Linked DNA regions of Homo sapiens: all the other regions are reported to be linked to region 1. Evidence: microRNA targets listed by miRTarBase, many of them from high-throughput screens and not tested one by one. Region 1 holds a microRNA gene; each other region holds the end of a gene's coding sequence.
What was found. Region 1 holds the annotated microRNA hsa-miR-1227-5p (GUGGGGCCAGGCGGUGG, at 990-1,006, shown strand). A microRNA usually pairs through its seed, bases 2 to 8, with sites in the 3' UTR of a target mRNA and lowers its output. Matches are read on the target gene's strand: a 7mer-m8 pairs with bases 2 to 8, a 7mer-A1 pairs with bases 2 to 7 and ends in A, and an 8mer does both.

Region 1 (4,883 bases):
TTGTGGAAGCGTCACCTTGTCCTCCTTGCATCACGTCTGTGCCCACATTTCCCCTTCTACACAGACGCCAAGCAGAATTTAGGGCCCACCCTGACAACCCCTTTTTACTTCACTTTATTATTTTATTTGCTTATTTTTTGAGACAGGGTCTTGGTATGTCGCCCAGGCTGGAGTGCAGTGGTGCAATCTCGGCTCCCTGTAACTTCCCCCTCTCGGGTTCAAGTGATTCTCCTGCCTCAGCCTCCCGAGTAGCTGGTACTACAGGCACGCGCCACCATGCCCAGCTAATTTTTGTATTTTTAGTAGAGACGGGGTTTCGCCATATTGGCCAGGCTGCTCTCGAACTCCTGACCTCAGGTGATCCTCCCACCTCGGCCTCCCAAAGTGCTGGGATTACGGTCTTGAGCCACCGTACCCGGCCCTCTTTATTTTTGAGACAGGATCTTTTGTTTCCGAGGCTGGAGTGCAGTGGCGTGATCACAGCTCACTGCAGCCTCAACCCCCTTGGCTCAAGCAGTCCTCCCACTTCTGACTCCGGAGTGGCTGGGCCTACAAGGCCCCACCACCACACCTGGCTAATTTTTGTTTTTGTAGAGATGGGGATTTTGCCATGTCACCCAGGCTGGTCTCGAACTCCTGAGCTCAAGCAATCCTCCCACCTTGGCCTCTCAAAGCGCTGGGATTATAGGCATGAGCCACCGCACCTGGCGACAACCTCATTTTGACTAGTTTATATGCAAAGACCCTGTTTATATACAGGGCCATACTCATGGGTTCTGGGGGGTCAGGACATGAACACATCTTTGTGGGGGCCAGAGAAGGGACAGTTTATGGGCAATGGCAAGAGGAAGCTGCTTGTGGCTGTGGGTAGGACCGACCACAGGTGTTCCATCCCCAGGCTTCATTGAGGACCCTGAGAGGAAGTATCACTTTGAGTGCAGCAGCGAGGAGCAGTGTCAGGAGTGGATGGAGGCTCTGCGTCGGGCCAGGTGGGGCCAGGCGGTGGTGGGCACTGCTGGGGTGGGCACAGCAGCCATGCAGAGCGGGCATTTGACCCCGTGCCACCCTTTTCCCCAGCTACGAGTTCATGCGGAGAAGCCTCATCTTCTACAGGAACGAAATCCGGAAGGTGACGGGCAAGGTGTGTGCAGGGCTGCAGAGGGCCGGGGTGGGGCTGCAGGTGGCAGAGGCAGTCCTCCAGCCCTGGCTCATGGCCACCCGTCCTCCCCACAGGACCCCCTGGAACAGTTCGGCATATCCGAGGAGGCCAGGTTCCAGCTGAGTGGCTTGCAGGCGTGAGCGCAGGGCACGGTGGTCAGCGTGCAGCGGGACGGGACTGGCCCTGCCCAGCCATGAATCGCTTGGCCATGCCTGGATCTGTTTTGTTTTGGTTTTTGGTTTTTGGGTCAGGGTTTCACTGTGTTGCCCAGGCTAGAGTGCAGTGGTGCCACAGCTCACTGTGACCTTGACCTTCTGGACTCAAGTGATCCTCCTGCCTCAGCTTCCCAAGTAGCGGGGATCACAGGCATGAGCCGCCACACCCGGCCATCACACCTGGATTTTCAGTGGGAGGTTTTTGGTTTGGAGACATCCAAAGCCTGAAGCCAGGTGGGTGTGGGCAGGGGCTGCATTTTATGAAACTGCCCAGCAAGCTGCGCTCCCTGGGGCCCCAGGATCCACCTAACTGGCCTGGCACCTGGTGCCACGTGCTGCTGCCGCCAGGATATGCGCCTTCCCACAGGTGCCCTGCCTGAGTTGTGTGCATCCAGGGGCCTGGTGAGCCCCCAGGCTGGTGGCATGGCCCCCCTGCCCCGTGCTGAATGAATGTACAGAGCCAGACAAAGCTGTGAATGGCCTAGGGGCTGAGTCCCACACCAGCTGTGAATTCTCCTGCAGACAGGAGGGCCCTGGCTGTGCACCTGGGGAAGTGGTTGCCCTGGGGCCAGGGTGCTTGTTCTGTTCAAATAAAGGTACCTCTTTTCCACACTGGATGGCGGTGAAGTGAAGGAGAGGGGAGGGGCAGCCAGGGAGCCCCCACCCAAGGGAAGTAAGGCTCAGGGTCCTGAGAGGCAGTGGCTGGGCCTCCTGCACTGAGGGGAGAGCTAGAACCCCCAGCCAGGACAGGTGGAGGCTGGGACCCAGGCCTGGGGAGAACAGAGCTGCTGTGTGGTATCAGGAATCCTGTGGTGACCTGGGGTCCTGCCTCTGGCATTCACGGGCCCTCCCGGAGTGTGGCTGGGGCCTGGGCGGGCTTTGGTCCATCTGATGTGAAAAGGACTTTGCCGATGTCATTGGGGTCGCAGATCTGGTTTTCCGTTCATCAAAAGGCACTTTGCCTGTGGCCTGGTGCCCTCATAAGCCTCCCCTTGCCTGTGGCCTGGTGCCCTCATAAGCCTCCCCAAGGCCAGGGTGTCCTGGTGTCAGCCCCCGGAGCTTCTGCTAGGAGCACCCCTAGGCCCTCCACTCCCCGTTTCGGCGATGACACACTAGCCGGGGCCTCTCACTGGCCGCCAGGAGACGCCTCATGCCACCTGGAAGAAAGGCTGCCATTCACACCAGGTCCGAGTGAAAACAGTCTGTTTATTACAGCGTCTAGAGGTGGGGATGCAGAATGCAGGGGTGCCCAGAGGAAGGGGCGCCTGCAGCCCAGGGGCGGACCGTGACAATGCGCGCAATCCAAATACAGTTCACCCGGAAGACACGGCAGAGCCTCCCACGTTACAAAGGCTGACACAGACCAGCAGCGTGTTGTGTTGGGAGGGGGGTCTGACCACGATGGCGAGGGCAGTCGGCGGGGGGTGGGGGGCCTGCTGACCACTGAACAGACTGACGCATCCTGGGGGCAGATAAATTAAGGGGGAAGTCTTAAATAAGTCACTGTGCGTGCCTCATGGGCCGAGGAGGGGGTATCCTAGTTTTTAGGGTTCCTATCAATTCCTGAGCAAGAGCCACTCCCAGGCGCCGCCCGCCCACCCACAGTCAGCAGCAGCAGCACAGGTCCCCGCCAGCTGCCCACGGAAACTCAGGCCAGGTGCCAGCACCAGGCTCCAGATCCCCAGTCTCCACAGCCACCCTGCCACCCGCCACACACCACCCCTCAGTCTGGGAGTGTCTGAGAAGAACACAGGCCCAGGGCTCAGAACAGGAGGGTGTCCGCAGGCAGCCACCACACTAGTTCACGTGTGGTGACACGCATATGACCCAGTGGGCTCAAGGAGACTTCTGCCTGGGCCAGTGGCTCTGAGACCCAGTGCGTGTCCTGAACATACGGTGGCCTGCGTGGGCAGGAGCCCTGCATGGCCATCTGCAGGACCCGTGATGGCACCCGGACTGCCACTGTCACCTAGAGGGAGGCAGAAGTAATACAGTGTTTAAAGAATGTGTCTTGTTCTAGACCAGGGACTCGGCCGTCTCTGCCATCAACCCTGTGGCGTATCCGGCCCGTGGCGACACAGAGCAGGCTGCCTGTCCTGAAGGCCAGGCTCGGGGCTTGGGGCTCAGGCAGAGGCACAGCACCTTCTAGCTGAGAGCACCAACGTGGGGTGGGGAGGGCACTGGGCACCACTTAAGAGGACAGGTCCGGAGCACCATCTTCAGAACTCAGCTATGTTGGAGGGTGGGGGTCTGAGAGGTTGTTGGGGGCTGGGGGAGGCAGCACCCCCCTCACCAGGCACAAGCAGGGGTCTTCAGGCCCTCCCACACAGGACTCCCCCACCTAGCAACCACAGAAGCCTTTCCTCCGTGGCTCCCTTTGGAGGCCACGTGGTAGGGATGTGACGTGTGTCCATCCTGCCCTTGGGAACCAGAACACAGGGCTGGCAGCTCCCTGGAGGGTGGATCTGTGGCACCTTGGGGAAGGGGCTCCCCGATGCCATCTCACAGGAGCAAGCACTTGAGAAGGTGGGCTCAGCAAGTGCCACACAGCCCAGGGCCAGATGCGGGGAGCTCAGACTCCCAGATCCCATCCTCCAGGGAGGGCACAGAGCCACCACTGCTCAGACAACCCAGGCCCTGACTGCTCAGGGCTCCAGAAGCACTGGAGTGGCCCTGCCTGCCTGCTACACCCCGGCCTCAGCTCCTCTCCTTCCACACCCAGTCCCAGGCACCCGCCAAGGCTGCAGAGTGGGGGGCCGACGTCACCCTGGGGCCTAGGGCCAGAGAGGCCAGGTTTCAGCAGTGCACCCTGGCCCCAGCACACCCACAGCAGCTGGGAGAACCAGCACAGGCTCCAAGGGATGGGTGCCAGGCGTGGCCCTGACAGGAAGGGATGTGGGGCAGGCAGGGGCGCCGGCAGCTCTGTCTGGGCTGCTGGGAGCTGCAACTGAGGGGTCTAGGGTCGGGGCTGACGCTGGGGCCATTTTGTGCACTGTTTGAATAAATAAGGTTTTTTCCCCTCGCTTTTCTTTCCTCTTCACTGTGCATTATACCATCTAAAAATAAAAGCTGTCAAATCTATGAAATTTATAAATTCTCATCACATCTCTATAAAATACTGCCACTCATTAGTGTGACTCTCTCCTGTACAGAAACACCAAGGGACCCACGACAGGCCTGCCCCGCATCGCAGGGCATGCTGCGAGCCATGGACAGCCGAGAAATACAAAAGTAAATGCACTTGTTCAACGTGCCCGCGCCGTCCTCACAGCACCATCGCGCAGCACATGGCCAGCTGCGTCACCGCGCAGGCCCCTTCACATGCAAGGGCGCAACCCACGCCCCGGAGGGTGAACAGTCTGGGGGTTCACAGTGCCGGGGTAAAGGTGAAGAGCTCAGGGCAGGCGCCAGGGCGCTCAGGAAGGGGCTCAGGCCGCGGGGAGGCCTCCGAGGAATGTGGTGGCGACGGGCCTGCCTTTGGTACGGGAGCAGCGCGTCGGGGGAGCCGG
Region 2 (5,058 bases), not on the chromosome of region 1:
GGCTCAGACATTTGTCCTTTCTTCTTCTGTGCCCACAAGCACCTGTGTGTGGCATGTTGAGTTTCAGTGGAAGTCATATACTTCTGGGCTTCATAGTTTATGGCTGCACTGTGGGACATACACCAGCTACAAGGAAGGTGAAAGGATAGGACCCGATGAAGCTGAAATCACATTTATTCTAACTACTTATAGCAGCATAGCACTTTGTTCATGAAGGCTGAGATAGTCGCCGAGGCAGTGAGGAACTTTTGAAGACGAACAAGGGATGTGGGTGTCAAGAGAGCTGCTGCCAGGTGGGAAAGACCAATTTGGCCACATAACCCCTGTCATCTGCCATCCAGATACTAAAAGGCAAAGCAAAGTGTAAATTGAATTTTCTATGTGACATTTTAAATAGTATTTCTGTTGCAGCCTGTGATTCAGTTAACTTACCTCAGGCTAAGCCTCAAAAAAAAAAAGGAAGAATGATTGAAACCAGTGACAAAAGATTTAGTCAATGAGGACTTGACCTCAGGAGTTTCTCCTTGATAAGATTTGATCTTGAAACTAGGCCTAGTGTTAGGGATGCAATTCTCAGTAAAGTTCCCTATAAAGAAAACTGTGGTCATTTGGTTCTCATCTGCCCTTACACATTTTAGACCTACAACAAGAAAGGGGCCTCCCGAAGGAAAGACCACCTGAAGGACCACCAGAATGGGTCCATGGCTGCTGTGAATGGACACACCAACAGCTTTTCACCCCTGGAAAACAATGTGAAGCCAAGGAAGCTGCGGAAGGATTGAAGTCAAAGAATTGAAACCCTCCAAACCACGTCATCTGATTGTAAGCACAATATGAGTTGTGCCCCAATGCTCGTTAACAGCTGCTGTAACTAGTCTGGCCTACAATAGTGTGATTCATGTAGGACTTCTTTCATCAATTCAAAACCCCTAGAAAACGTATACAGATTATATAAGTAGGGATAAGATTTCTAACATTTCTGGGCTCTCTGACCCCTGCGCTAGACTGTGGAAAGGGAGTATTATTATAGTATACAACACTGCTGTTGCCTTATTAGTTATAACATGATAGGTGCTGAATTGTGATTCACAATTTAAAAACACTGTAATCCAAACTTTTTTTTTTAACTGTAGATCATGCATGTGATTGTAAATGTAAATTTGTACAATGTTGTTATGGTAGAGAAACACACATGCCTTAAAATTTAAAAAGCAGGGCCCAAAGCTTATTAGTTTAAATTAGGGTATGTTTCAAGTTTGTATTAATTTGTAATAGCTCTGTTTAGAAAAAATCAAAGACCATGATTTATGAAACTAATGTGACATAATTTCCAGTGACTTGTTGATGTGAAATCAGACACGGCACCTTCAGTTTTGTACTATTGGCTTTGAATCAAGCAGGCTCAAATCTAGTGGAACAGTCAGTTTAACTTTTTAACAGATCTTATTTTTTTATTTTGAGTGCCACTATTAATGTAAAAAGGGGGGGGCTCTACAGCAGTCGTGATGAAACTTAAATATATATTCTTTGTCCTCGAGATTTTAGGAAGGGTGTAGGGTGAGTAGGCCATTTTTAATTTCTGAAGTGCTAAGTGTTTTTATACAGCAAACAAAAAGTCAATTTTGCTTTCCACCAGTGCGAGAGAGGATGTATACTTTTCAAGAGAGATGATTGCCTATTTACCGTTTGACAGAGTCCCGTAGATGAGCAATGGGGAACTGGTTGCCAGGGTCTAAATTTGGATTGATTTATGCACTGTTATCTGTTTTGACACAGATTTCCTTGTAAAATGTGCCTAGTTTACCAAAATTAACAAAGGGGGGGAAAGGACCTTAGAACTTTTTAAGGTAAAATCAAATATAGCTACAGCATAAGAGAATCGAGAAATTTGATAGAGGTAACTTGTTTAATGTAAATCTAATAGTACTTGTAATTTCTTTCTGCTTAGAATCTAAAGATGTGTTTAGAACCTCTTGTTTAAAAATAATAGACTGCTTATCATAAAATCACATCTCACACATTTGAGGCAGTGGTCAAACAGGTAAAGCCTATGATGTGTGTCATTTTAAAGTGTCGGAATTTAGCCTCTGAATACCTTCTCCATTGGGGGAAAGATATTCTTGGAACCACTCATGACATATCTTAGAAGGTCATTGACAATGTATAAACTAATTGTTGGTTTGATATTTATGTAAATATCAGTTTACCATGCTTTAATTTTGCACATTCGTACTATAGGGAGCCTATTGGTTCTCTATTAGTCTTGTGGGTTTTCTGTTTGAAAAGGAGTCATGGCATCTGTTTACATTTACCTTATCAAACCTAGAATGTGTATATTTATAAATGTATGTCTTCATTGCTAGGTACTAATTTGCAGATGTCTTTACATATTTCAATACAGAAACTATAACATTCAATAGTGTGCTGTCAAAGTGTGCTTAGCTCACCTGGATATACCTACATTGTTAAATGTCTAAACAGTAATCATTAAAACATTTTTGATTACCTGTGCCTGCATTTTACATTTTTTGTGCTGGCAATTCTGAAGAACTGGAGAAAAATCCACTTAATTCACTGTCTAGGAACTTACACAAATGGATATAAATAATTCAGTTAGGAAGGCCATATTATTGCTTAGTTCTCAATGAGGAAGGACCCTGCATAATAAGGCATAGTGGTGGTTCCACCCTAATGCTGTCCCCTCTGCCTCCTCCAGGTAATCCCACTAAAGGTTCCAGCTCTAAATATGCTCCTTTGTCCTTCCTCCCCATTGGCCCCAATCTCTCCCCTTACCCTGAGAATGTTAGAATTACTTTCCTAGGTCTAGACCATAGGTCTTCTGCAAAATTTTTTTCTGGAAAGAACCAGTTGGAAAATATTTCAGGCTTTGCAGGACATACAGTCCCTGTTGCAGCCACTTGACTGTGCCATCGTGGAGCACAAAAACAGCCATAGACAATATGTAAATGAATGGGCATGGCTGTGTTCTAATAAAACTTTATTTACAGGCTTGGAAAACATAGCAAGACCTCATCTCTACATAAAATTTTTAAAAATTAACTGGGCATGGTGGTACATACCAGCAGTCCCAGCTACTCAGGAGGATGAGGCCAAAGATCGCCTGAACCCATGAGTTCGAAGTTACGGTGAGCTAGGGTCATGTGACTGCACTCCAGCCTGGGCAACAGAGTGAGACCCCATCTCTTTAAAAAAAAAAATTACAAAACAGAAGGCCTGTGCCTATAGTTTGCTGACCTCTACTCTAGAGTAATGAGGTCCCCTCCCCTTGGACCTAAAGCTCAATCATTTTATTTGCCAAAGATCATTTTATGTCCCAGATTGTGGCCCTTCCCAGCGTACCCTACTTATTTTGAATTTACAGGTACATTCACGTCTACAACAGGAGAGATGACATGGATGGTCCATCTTCCTTCCATCTACTTCATACCATATGGTCCCCAGTATAGGCTCTTAGGTACTAAACTAGAAAGCACCTAAGAGCCAAGACTAAGCCTATACCGTTTTAAATGAGTGCTCATGAAAGTCATGTTAGTTGCTGAAATTACCTGCGGATGTGACTGCAGAATTGTCAGAACTCCAGAGAAATGTCACCTAAAACTGCATTTAGTACTTGGGATATTATCCAGAAGGTGTAAGAGGATTGTTGGGGAGTTGATGGGAATAAATTATATCCCTGTCTTTCCCCTCTAAGTTCAGAACAAATTGAAAAAATACTGGAAATTAGACCAGTAGGAATCAAAATAGCATGTGTCTTACTAAGAAGGCTGGATTGGTGAAACTAAGACCACAGTGTGGCTCTCTAATTAACCCTTGCTAATAACTCTATTAACCTAACTTACCAGGGCTCAGTAGCACACCAGTGGTTGCTCTGAGGGTTGGTCTGGTGATAAAGTGATTATTAAAATATATTAAATATCAGTCCTGGAATTTACCTACCTTAAATTGTAAACTCCCCTTGTGGCAGATTCTACACTGATGACCTTACCATGCCAAGAAAGTGTGCTTAGCTGCACCTCCCAAGCAGCAATCAAAGTCTTCCCTCCTCCCGTCAGAGAAGTGAGTGGATAAGAGGCGAGAGAGAGGGCAGATGTGTTCTGCTGTCCTTTTTCTTGTATGGAAAAGGGAGGATTCCCATTTCTCCCTCTATTTTTGGCAGCCTTGCTAATCATGTGAAGGGCATTGTAGACTAATATGAGAAGTACAACTTGGAGACCACATTGGCTGGGTTGAAATCCTACCTGTATGACCTTTTGGCAAGAAAACTTTGCCTTAGTTTTCTCTTCTGCCAAATAGGAGTAATGTTAGTTTCTATGTTACAGGGTCCTTGTAAGGATTAAATAGATGACTAATGATACTGTATATATAAAGCCTTTGGAACCCCATCTAGCTCAGAGTAAAGTGTAAGTGATAACTTCAGGATTGTAATCTCAACTCACCCCACTGGTCTCTTTCAGCTGTAAGCTATTGTTTCACTGTTATTTCCCTGGTTGGCTGCTCTAGTAATCCTATCCAAAAAAAGGGAAGGAAGTTATTTCGTGTGACATTTTCTTTGTTAAATCAGTGTTGAAAAGAAATCAGCAATTGTTAGGAGTCAAATGTTCACCGTCTATATTATTCCTGATTTTGCCAGAGTTTTACATTAAGTTCACCATTCTGGAGTTTTTAGAATCTACTTTGGAAAATAGGGCAGTGATTATCAGTATCTGGACTTCGTTCATTGTTTCCCTGGAGTTCTGACAACAATTCTGCAGTCATATCCACAGGTTGTTTCAGCGACTGACATGTCTTTCATGAGAACTCGTTTAAAACAGGTGTTTCCTGCTATCCCCTTATCACTCTTGGACTTCAAATCCTAACCAGGTTTTTCTTTACACTCTTTAATTTGGAAATGATTGTCCTCAGTGGAGCAGATGGAGCCAAATAGTGGTTGCTGTCAGTTTTTTGCTCTGCTCTTCAGCATTGCTTCATTGGCCATTAGTTCTTACTCCAGGCATAGATTTAAAACCTGCTTTTGTTATCCTTGACATTTTTGTAGTC
Region 3 (5,058 bases), not on the chromosome of region 1:
ATCTAAGCCAGGAGTTTGATACCATCCTGGCCAACATGGTGAAACCCCATCTCTACTAAAAATACAAAACTTAGTGGGGCATGGTGGCAGACACCTGTAATCCCAGCTACTAGGGAGGCTGAGGCAGGAGAATCACTTGAACCTGCGAGTCGGAGACCACAGTGAGCCAAGATAGCACCACTGCACTCCAGCCTGGGCGACAGAGTGAGACTGTCTCAAAAAAAAAAAAAAAAAAAAACTGGCGGGGCGCGGTGGCTCACGCCTGTAATCCCAGCACTTTGGGAGCCTGAGGCGGGCGGATCACGAGGTCAGGAGATCAAGACCATCCTGGCTAACAACGGTGAAGCCCCGTCTCTACTGAAAATACAAAAAAATTAGCCGGGCGTGGTCGCGGGCGCCTGTGGTCCCAGCTGCTCAGCAGGCTGAGGCAGGAGAATGGTGTGAACCCGGGAGGTGGAGCTTGCAGTGAGCCGAGATCGTGCCACTGCACTCCCAGCCTGGGCGACGGAGCGAGACTCCGTCTCAGAAAAAAAAAAAAAAAGGCTGAAACTAGGAGGGAGAGAGGTGCTCTAAGAAAGACAGGATGCAGTTGTTGAGCCCCCAACCCCTTCCTGTTTAACTGAAAAGCTGACCCTGAGCTAGGAGGCAGGGTCCAGGCACAAATGGAGGCTGTGACCAGGACTGAGCTGCCTATTCTCTGCCTTTCCTACCTGGCTACAGATCGTTCAGAAAGAGGCAGAGCGGGCCGAACGGGCCAAGGAGCGGGAGAAGCGGCGAAAGGAGCAAGAAGAAGAAGAGCAAAAGGAGCGGGAGAAGGAAGCCGAGCGGGAACGGAACCGACAGCTGGAGCGAGAGAAACGTCGGGAGCACAGTCGGGAGAGGGACAGGGAGAGAGAGAGAGAAAGGGAGCGGGACAGGGGGGACCGAGATCGGGATAGGGAAAGGGACCGAGAACGAGGCAGGGAAAGGGATCGCAGGGACACCAAGCGCCACAGCAGAAGCCGGAGTCGGAGCACACCTGTGCGGGACCGGGGTGGGCGCCGCTAGCTGGGAAAACACTAGAGCTGCAGGTACCAGCCACTCGGCCCCAGGGGGTTATGGCCACAGAGGGATAGGCACAGTCTCCACCACCCTGGAGCCAAGGGTCTTTCACATCACCTATCCCTACATACATACCAAATGGAAAAGTGGCCATCCTTTTCCCCCCAAACACACCCCCTTAACCTATCTCTTGGGACTTAGCCCGACCCTCCCTCTCATTTCCCATTAAGTCTGAGAGGCAAGAGCTAGGTTAGGCAAGGAGGTGGTTGGCCAGAGATGGGGAACAGCCAGGTGCCCCAGTCCTCTGATTTTTCCTCCATCCTGCTTACCACCTCCCTGGGTACTTACAGCCTTCTCTTGGGAACAGCCGGGGCCAGGACTGGGTCACCTATGAGCTGAATCAGCATCTCCTCCTGAGTCCCAGGGCCCCTGCAGTTCCCAGTCTCTTCTGTCCTGCAGCCCTTGCCTCTTTCCCACAGGTTCCACTTTATATCCACCTTTTCCTTTTGTTCAATTTTTATTTTTATTTTTTTTATTATTAAATGATGTGGTCTATGGAAAAAAAAATAAAAATCTGACTTAGTTTTAAACTGTGTGAGTGGCTTTCTTTGGGCAGGTTAAGAAGCCACTGTGGATATCTGAGCGTGGACATCTGAGGATATCTGGAGTAGGAGTTGCTCTCATTCCATGTGTTCCTTTAGGCTGACTGCTTCCTGCTTATTGAACTTCCCACGTCTTTTATCCCCTGCCTTGGCCCTGACCAACCCAAAGCTGTGGACCTTCCTCATTCGGGAAGGCATGGAGCAACCTGTGTCCGTGGCGGCACCCCAGCAGGGCTAGGAGGGTGGGTCCTCTTCTGGTTCCTGGTCCTGTGCACGGTTAAATTAGGGGTTTGGTCACCTGCCTGCCACCTTGGTGCCTCCCACAACTACCACCAGGGGGCGGCAGCTCCTCGCTCTGTTGGCCCCTGTAACCGAGCTTCCCAAGAAGGGTTCCACTGCCCGCCTCCGACCTCCCGCCGATGTCGTGCCTCTGTTCCCGACCCGCTCCCTGGGCCCGGGCCTCGGACTCTCTGGACCCTTCTGCCGTCCTTAAGTGTCCCCCAGCTGACCTGCTACCGTGCTTTGCATGGGCTCTCAAAACGCCGCCGCCTTGCAGCTGGGATTCCATCCACACCAGTCCCAAAAGCCAGCCGGGAACCGGGAGCCCGGAGCCGGGTCTCTCCGCAGTGGGCTCCGAATTCCCCACCTCACCGCGCGCTCGCCCGTTTTCCGCTGCGGGCGGGGACTGGCAGCTTCGCGCTCCCGGGTGCACCCGCCCCGCCAGCTCTTCGGAAATGGCCTGGCGCCGTGGCCTGGACGTCCTCCCGCCCGAGTGCCCTGCCGGGCGCTGCGGGCCCGGTCCGGGAGGGGCGCCGCATCTGTATGCGCCCCGCAGCCCAGGAGCGCCGAGGGGGCGGACGCGCGGCGCCGCCTCCGCCCCCGCCCCCGCCGCGCGGGCCCGGCTGGCCGGGGAGGGTCGGAGGCTGGGCTCTCCTCTCCCGCGCGGCGCGGAGCCGCCTCGCTCCTCCGCAGGCGGAGTCTTCTTCCCCCGCCCCCTCCGTCTCGCTCCCTTGTTCTCGCCGGGGCCGCTCAGACCTGCAGCGGAGCCGCGGCGCCCGCTCCAATCGGCTCGGGGCTGTGCCCCCGGGACCCGGCGACGGGGGCGGGCGGGGGCGCTTCCCGCCGGCCTGGGCCCCTCGGCAGTGCCAGGTAAGGGCGCCTGCCCCGGAGCAGGGGTCGGGAATCCGCGGAGGGGTAGGAGGGGGCCCGCAGCCTGCGGGGGTCTTCGGAGGGGTGCGCTCCGTGGCTGGGAGCCCGCTGCCGGCTCCCTTCTCCCGCGCTCTGCCTCTTTCCCTTCTCCCCTCGCACCTCTCTCCCTCTTTCTTCTCTCGATTTCTCTTCACCCTTCCTTCTCTGCCTGTTTGCCTTCCTTATCCCTTCCCTCTGTCTCCCCAACCCTTCCCTCTCCCTCTTGTCCTTTTTCCATCTCCTCTCCCTCTTTGCCTTTTTCTTTCTCTACCTTTCTCCCCTTTCCTGCCTTTCTCTTTTCTCTTTCTTGCTCTCCTTTCCCTCCCTCTCCTCTCCCCTTCCTGCTATCCTGTTTCCCACTCCTCTATCCCCTTCCTTCTCGCCTCCTCATCCCGCCTTCTCTCTGGTCCCCAGCCTTCCTCCGGTTTCCCCCTTCCCTCGGGAGCAAAGGGACTGTCAGGTGTGTGTCTGCTCTGAGGGAGGAGGGGCAGAAGCCACAGCTACCTGAGGGGTCCTCCCCCCCGCCCCTAGGAGAAAGGAGAGCAGTGGGAAGGGTCTCCTCTCTAGCTCCCTTCCCGTGGCCCCTCCCTGCCTCCACCCCTCCTGTCTGCTCCTTCTCCCAGAATTAAGTTCCCGAGGCCTGGCTTGACACCCCCGAAGCTGAGGTCTGCCCCTGCCTGCCCGGAACTGCCCCCGGTGACCCGTTTCCAAGCCTGGCCCCTAGGACTCCTCTCTGCCTTCAGACACCCAGGCTGCTGCCCTGGTCTCTCTCATTCTGTCTCTTGCCACTGTTCTGTTTCTGTCTCTCATCCAGTCATTTCTCTGCCGGACAGTCCCTGAGTCAGTCTAGCCGTCAGTCATTATCTGTCTCTAGCCTCTGGGTGGACCTCTCTCCCCGGTCACCTCCCCCTGTCCCCCACCCTGTATCCTCTTCCTTCAGCTCTGGCTCCCAACTCCTGTCTCACGAGCCCAGTCCCCCTTCAAGGACTGCACTGGCAGCGTGGGCTGGAGACAGGGCCTGGAGAGTGGGGCTCCCCCTTGTGGGGAGGGACTTTCACAGACTCTCAGCCCTGCCTGAGGCTGCACTCCTTGTCATCTCATGCTGACCCTAGACACCTTAAGGCCACACCTCCATGAATCCCAACTCCGTAATTTTAAGCCCTTTCTCTGGTAGCCCCGCCTCCTCCAATACCTGGCTACGTGCCCAACCTGGGAGGACAGAGACCAGATTTGGGATTCCAAGCCCTCCCAGCATCCCCTCTCCTGTGTTCCTCCCCAGTTCTCTACTCAGAGTTGACTGACCAGAGATTTATCAGCTTGGAGGGCTGGAGGTGAATACATGCAGAGCCTGGGTGGAGGAAGGATCAGCCTCTCTGCTCTCTGTCTTAGTCTGAGTTCTGGGCAGTGGAGTGTCTGGTTCCTTGGAGGTCTGGTCTTCAGCATCTAATTTTGCGGGGGAGGAGGGCTAGGGGTTTCCTTGAGCCTGAGCAGCTGCTTGTCCTGCAGGTGTGGATCCATGGGGTAGCCTCAACGCATCTGCCCCTCCACCCCAGCCAGCTCATGGGCCACGTGGCCTGGCCCAGCCTCAGCACCCAGGGCCAGTGAACAGAGCCCTGGCTGGAGTCCAAACATGTGGGGCCTGGTGAGGCTCCTGCTGGCCTGGCTGGGTGGCTGGGGCTGCATGGGGCGTCTGGCAGCCCCAGCCCGGGCCTGGGCAGGGTCCCGGGAACACCCAGGGCCTGCTCTGCTGCGGACTCGAAGGAGCTGGGTCTGGAACCAGTTCTTTGTCATTGAGGAATATGCTGGTCCAGAGCCTGTTCTCATTGGCAAGGTAAGGATGACCCCTCCCATGTCTACTCTGACACCAAGCCCTCAGGCCCTGCCCTGCAACTTCATCACTTCTGCAATGACCTTGGTCCCTCAGGACTCCCAACGCTCTACCCAAACCTAGACTCTTTAACCCTGTCTCTGTACTTGGAGCCCTCTGCCATCTTTTCGTGACCCCTGCAGCTGCACTCGGATGTTGACCGGGGAGAGGGCCGCACCAAGTACCTGTTGACCGGGGAGGGGGCAGGCACCGTATTTGTGATTGATGAGGCCACAGGCAATATTCATGTTACCAAGAGCCTTGACCGGGAGGAAAAGGCGCAATATGTGCTACTGGCCCAAGCCGTGGACCGAGCCTCCAACCGGCCCCTGGAGCCCCCATCAGAGTTCATCATCAAAG
Region 4 (4,989 bases), not on the chromosome of region 1:
AATCACTATATTATGCAGGGAGAAATCCATCAACATATTGTCTTTGGGTGGTGGTTTATTTTCTTCTTTATTCTCTAGGATTTTCTATTTGGATATACTCTAGGAGTTAAATGATAAACTTTTGAATAGGGAAGAAGGTGGGGTGGTGAAATTTGAAGGCCAAACATATGCTTTCAAACAAAAGAATTCACTCCATTTCCTTTTCCACTTTTCTACATTTTCCAGAAGAACTGATGACCACCCCAATTTTACAGCCCACTGAGGCCCTGTCCCCAGAAGATGGAGCCAGCACAGCACTCATTGCAGGTAATAGACTCTGAGCCAACTCCAAGGGACCTTCTGGATCAAGGGCATCTCTCTCCAGAGGGAGCCTGACCAAATCCATTAATGGGCTCACTCTGGCTTGTAAGTTATATTACACACACACACACACACACACACACACACACACAGCCATAAAAGACTCGGAGGCTTCTGTCAGAGGCACTACCAGTAAATGACAGGTTGGGAGGTGGCCGCAAATAGATATGCATACGGACGTTACACTTGAGTACGTGGGTAGGGACGAGGATATATGTGGTTGGTTGAGTGGGTGAGGAAGAGGGGGAGGATCAGATAAACCACTTCCTGTTAGGATAAGCCATTTCCTGTTCCCTCCTTCCCGTTTCTTTAAGAATCAGGAACTGGTTTGGGAGGCAGTTCAGTTTTGTCAGAAATCAAAAGCATGTGTCCTTAGCTTAAGCACCAGGAGACTCCAGCTATTATGTGCCATGGAAATTGGGGTTGGTGGGGGAACATGGGTTTGGATGGAAGTGGACACTAGTTAATGAAAACAAGAGGATCTTTACGAAAACAGTGACTAAATCAGATGACTCCAGGAACTACTGAGACATCCTCAATCCTGAAACATCTCTACATTTTCCCTCTCCTTTCCAAGTTGTTATCACCGTTGTCTTCCTCACCCTGCTCTCGGTCGTGATCTTGATCTTCTTTTACCTGTACAAGAACAAAGGCAGCTACGTCACCTATGAACCTACAGAAGGTGAGCCCAGTGCCATCGTCCAGATGGAGAGTGACTTGGCCAAGGGCAGCGAGAAAGAGGAATATTTCATCTAATGACTCCCAGGCCCCAAGGAGCTTATTCCTGGCTCCATCGCTAACACGTTGACTGCTTATTATGGGAAAGTTTTCTCTGAAGCCAGGGAGAAGCATTGATTGATGTGGGCAAATCCAAGCTCCAGCCAGGTCGCAGTCCCAAATGCCGACATCACTGACTCCAGGGACCAGGGACATGGAGAAAGCTGTTTATGATATCTTTAACCAGGCCCTCTTACTAGAGCTGGTGTTTGTGACTGGCCAACAAGATGTGGCTATGCCAGGGGACATCTGAGTATGTGCCCAGTCATCTTTTTTCACAGGTTGAAGGGAGAGAAAAGATTTTGAGTTAAGGTCATTGGCTGCTCTACTCTGTCCCCTACCTGGTCACCTAGTGATAGCCCCAGTGGAGATACTGTCCATACAAGGTCTTCCCAGAGGCTGGATACCACAGTAAAAGGCCAGGCCAGGAGGGGTAGGAGACTATGGAGATCTTACCTCCTGATAAATGTGCTACACCCCCTAATCTGAGCCCTTCCTTTCCGTGTTCCCCAACAACCTCATGCTTACGTGATTTTTATTCAAATTAAAAATTTTCATTGCTACAGAAATCAGATTCTCATGTGCAAGAAGTAACTACATTTTGACTTATTTTTGCTTAAACATTTTTGACATTTTCTTTTCCCTATTTAACGCCTTTACATATGTTCTCTTCCAAGCAATAAGAACCCTAGGAAAGTTCTAGAAGTTTGCAGAACTATCTCAGGGATTTGAGACAAAGATGGTGCAGGAAAGCTTGTTCCAGGGGAACATCATTAGAAACATACCCTGGGAGGGCCGGGTTCGGTGGCTCACGCCTGTGATCCCAGCACTTTGGGAGGCCGAGGCAGGCGGATCACAAGGTTAGGAGATCGAGACCATCCTGGCTAACACGGTGAAACCCCGTCTCTACTAAAAATATATAAAAAAAATAGCTGGGCGTGGTGGCGGGCGCCCATAGTCCCAGCTGCTTGGGAGGCTGAGGCAGGAGAATGGCTTGAACCCAGGAGGCGGAGCTTGCAGTGAGCTGAGATTGCACCACTATACTCCAGCCTGGGCAACAGAGTGAGACTCCGTCTCAAAAAAAAAAAAAAAAAAAAAAGTACCCTGGGAGATGAGTTGGTTCAAGCCTCCATCCTGGCAAGGGCCAGAATTTCCCAGAATCCCTTCTACATATATACAGAAGGAACCAGAAAAAATCAACCTACCACCTTTCCCAGTGTATCCTCAGAATCAAGCCAAGAAGCTTCTTGGATTTTAGTCTCAAGATAAGTTGTGTTTAAAAGGCACATTTTGGTATAAATTATTAGCTCATCAGATATTGTTCACTTTGGAATTAAAGCTAGATCTCCTTTGAAGTCTTAATGTATTGCCTCTGTTGTCCAAGCTCAAACCCAACCAAGTTAAGATCAAGAGCTGAGGAATCTGGCTGGGTGCAGTGACTCACTGCCTGTTATCCCAATACTTTGGGAGGCTGAGGCAGACAGATCACTTGAGGTCAGGAGTTTGAGACCAGCGTGGCCAACGCAGTGAAGCCGTCTCTACTAAAAGTACAGAAATGAACCAGGTGTTGTAGCAGGTGCCTGTAATCCCAGCTACTCAGGAGGCTGAGACAGGAGAATCACTTGAACCCGGGAGGTGGAGGTTGCAGTGAGCAGACACTGCCACTGCACTCCAGCCCGGGTGACAGAGGGAGACCCTGTCTCAAAAAATAAATAAAAGAGCTGAGGAATCTATCTTGGCAACCTAGATTCTATGAGTTTTCAGTATTTCTCCACATAGAACATTGGAGAAACTAAAGGTCATCCTCAACGTATACAAATTGCTATACCAGAACCTTTTCTTCAAGCCAAACTTTAGAGCAAGTTAGGAGAATCAATAGTTCCCTCATTTCTAAGTTTAGGTCCGAAATTCCAAAATTTGTAAGAGGTTGGAGTAAAATGATGAAAAGTTGAACATCTGGAATGGAATTCATGAAATGATCAAGTCTTAGGCTTGTACTCCTGCCTTTATTTCAAAGCGTCATCAAAGGAAACAGAGCAGCAGCAGCACCTAGCTGAATTCTAGATGGGATATAAATAAAATATATATAGAAGAAATCTAAAAACAAGCTAAGTAAAGAATCCTTGCAGTGAGGTGTAATGCAACTTCATCACTTTATTCAAATCTTCAAAATAGTCTTTATTCTACATTTTTAGTATAAAAATTCCACAAGTTAAGTGCACCACAGTGTAGAGAGAGACATACAACGCTGAACTTCCATAACAGTCAATGGTACAGTCAAACATCACATGTACAGAACACACAATTTAGATGAACTGAAATTATAAGATAAAATAAAATAAAATCCAATTTCAGAAAACAAAAATCAAAACATTAAGGATCCCTGAAATATTCTTAAACCCTAATGAGATTTCACTGGACTCAAGTCATTTTGTAGTGAGACATTCACAATATGACCCTATTAACCCAGTCTAGGAATTCTGGGGAGCCGAATGAGTGGCCGCATCAGACACTCTGACAAAAAATGGTAACCAGTTTTTGATCTGAAAACTCCTCTTAATTTAGCTCTGAACACATCAATCAAGCTTTTGAAATGCATCCTCCTCCTTGCCCCTCATATTTTAAACCAACTGTTGTTCACAGTACAGTTTGCACGACATCTTTGTTCAAACATAGCTCAGTTTTTCTGGCACCAAAGCAAATTTGGGTTAGGTTCGTGTATGCAGAGACAACCTATGAGGAGGGCCCATAAGGCACCCTCCACTTTTGCCTGAGGAGATACGAAAGCAGAAGTAATGGCATCTGTACTTGGGGCACAGAGAGGGTTTCAGAGGATCCTTGTGAAACACTAGTTAAAAGATGACGAGTGGGGAGAAGTGCGAGGAAAGAAGGAAATTAGTCTGACTGGCTTTCTGTCCTGCACCATTGATTCAATGGAGACTGGCGGGAGGAAATGGAAGACTAGGGTTGGAGATGGGATGGGTGGGGCAAGGGATGGAAAGGAAAAGGCAGACAACTAATGCGTTCCATTTATAACAAGTAATATATATCAAAGACTTAAAGGAGATTAAAGACCAATCAGAATAATTTGGCAACTTTAATTCTTAGGAAGATCAAAGTTCCCTCCAAACCTAATTTGATGTTTTATTACTAAAAGCAAAGACCAGTATGGTACAGTATTACTCCAGAGAAATTAAAGGAAAATCCTTAGGGCGGCTTCACCCACATTCATTTTATGAATGGATACCTCCCCTACCTCAAAATGCTTTAGGGAGGTACTGCTACCATTACATGGTTCCTTATTAAATTTGAAAAGTGCCTGAAAGTTTGGGCACCAGAAAGACACCCCAACAACATGTGTCTAAACTGCAACTTCAGGTTAATATGACTAAAGCAGTTACATTGTGAGAAGTGCTGAAGGTATGTGATGTCTTTCCCGGCACAGAGGTGGCCTTGGTTCCTCACCAGATGGTGTAGCCACCATCTGAACCACCCATGAAGAAGTTCCCCTTCCGCTGAGTTACGAGGACGTTGGCTCCCTGCATGACTGCAAGCTGAGCAGCATTGGGAGGGCATCCAGGAGGTGGAGGCTGAAAGGAAATGACATGATAGAATGGGCACAGGGCAGCTAATATAAGCGAAGGGGACATAGGGGAAGCAGAGGCCTGTTAGGATGAGGCAATGTGCTAACCAGCTGCGTTTTAAGGAGCTAGTTCCGCCACCAATTTGAGTTCTAAAGTAGGTCTATACTTTATGTGAACCCAAAGATACAAACAGGAAAGGGAGCCTACCACTCATTCAAAGGGTTCCAGCTCTAAGATGAAGCCTATGGCTACCTTCTGAACATGAACA

Region 2: miRTarBase lists ELOVL5 as a target of hsa-miR-1227-5p. Seed matches in the 3' UTR shown: 7mer-A1 at 843-849.
Region 3: the mRNA of ACIN1 is a reported target of hsa-miR-1227-5p. Seed matches in the 3' UTR shown: 7mer-m8 at 1,084-1,090.
Region 4: the mRNA of DAZAP2 is a reported target of hsa-miR-1227-5p. Seed matches in the 3' UTR shown: 7mer-A1 at 3,946-3,952.

The regions. Positions count from the first base shown.
Region 1 is chr19:2,230,256-2,235,138 of GRCh38, reverse strand. It overlaps MIR1227 (microRNA 1227), which reads left to right and starts at 990; the gene lies at 990-1,077. It overlaps DOT1L (DOT1 like histone lysine methyltransferase), which reads right to left. Exons shown (of 28, transcript NM_032482.3): 28 at 2,561-4,883. It overlaps PLEKHJ1 (pleckstrin homology domain containing J1), which reads left to right. Exons shown (of 6, transcript NM_018049.3): 4 at 899-989; 5 at 1,078-1,141; 6 at 1,234-1,986. The coding sequence ends at 1,299. RefSeq lists enhancers at 1-3, 6-585.
Region 2 is chr6:53,264,851-53,269,908 of GRCh38, reverse strand. ELOVL5 (ELOVL fatty acid elongase 5) reads left to right here. Exons shown (of 8, transcript NM_021814.5): 8 at 639-2,505. The coding sequence ends at 782. Among named protein-coding and RNA genes, the nearest start is that of MIR5685, 9.6 kb to the left of the region's middle.
Region 3 is chr14:23,055,137-23,060,194 of GRCh38, reverse strand. It overlaps ACIN1 (apoptotic chromatin condensation inducer 1), which reads left to right. Exons shown (of 19, transcript NM_001386863.1): 19 at 721-1,631. The coding sequence ends at 1,047. CDH24 (cadherin 24) reads left to right here and starts at 2,675. Exons shown (of 13, transcript NM_144985.4): 1 at 2,675-2,792; 2 at 4,338-4,662; 3 at 4,842-5,058. The coding sequence starts at 4,462. LOC105370705 (collagen alpha-2(I) chain-like) reads right to left here and starts at 2,535. Exons shown (of 2, transcript NR_169511.1): 1 at 2,153-2,535; 2 at 1,546-1,910. RefSeq lists silencers at 2,446-2,595, 2,676-2,795.
Region 4 is chr12:51,242,068-51,247,056 of GRCh38, reverse strand. It overlaps DAZAP2 (DAZ associated protein 2), which reads right to left. Exons shown (of 4, transcript NM_014764.4): 4 at 3,124-4,727. The coding sequence ends at 4,599. It overlaps SMAGP (small cell adhesion glycoprotein), which reads left to right. Exons shown (of 4, transcript NM_001031628.2): 3 at 226-306; 4 at 938-2,499. The coding sequence ends at 1,116. Among named protein-coding and RNA genes, the nearest start is that of DAZAP2, 5.7 kb to the right of the region's middle.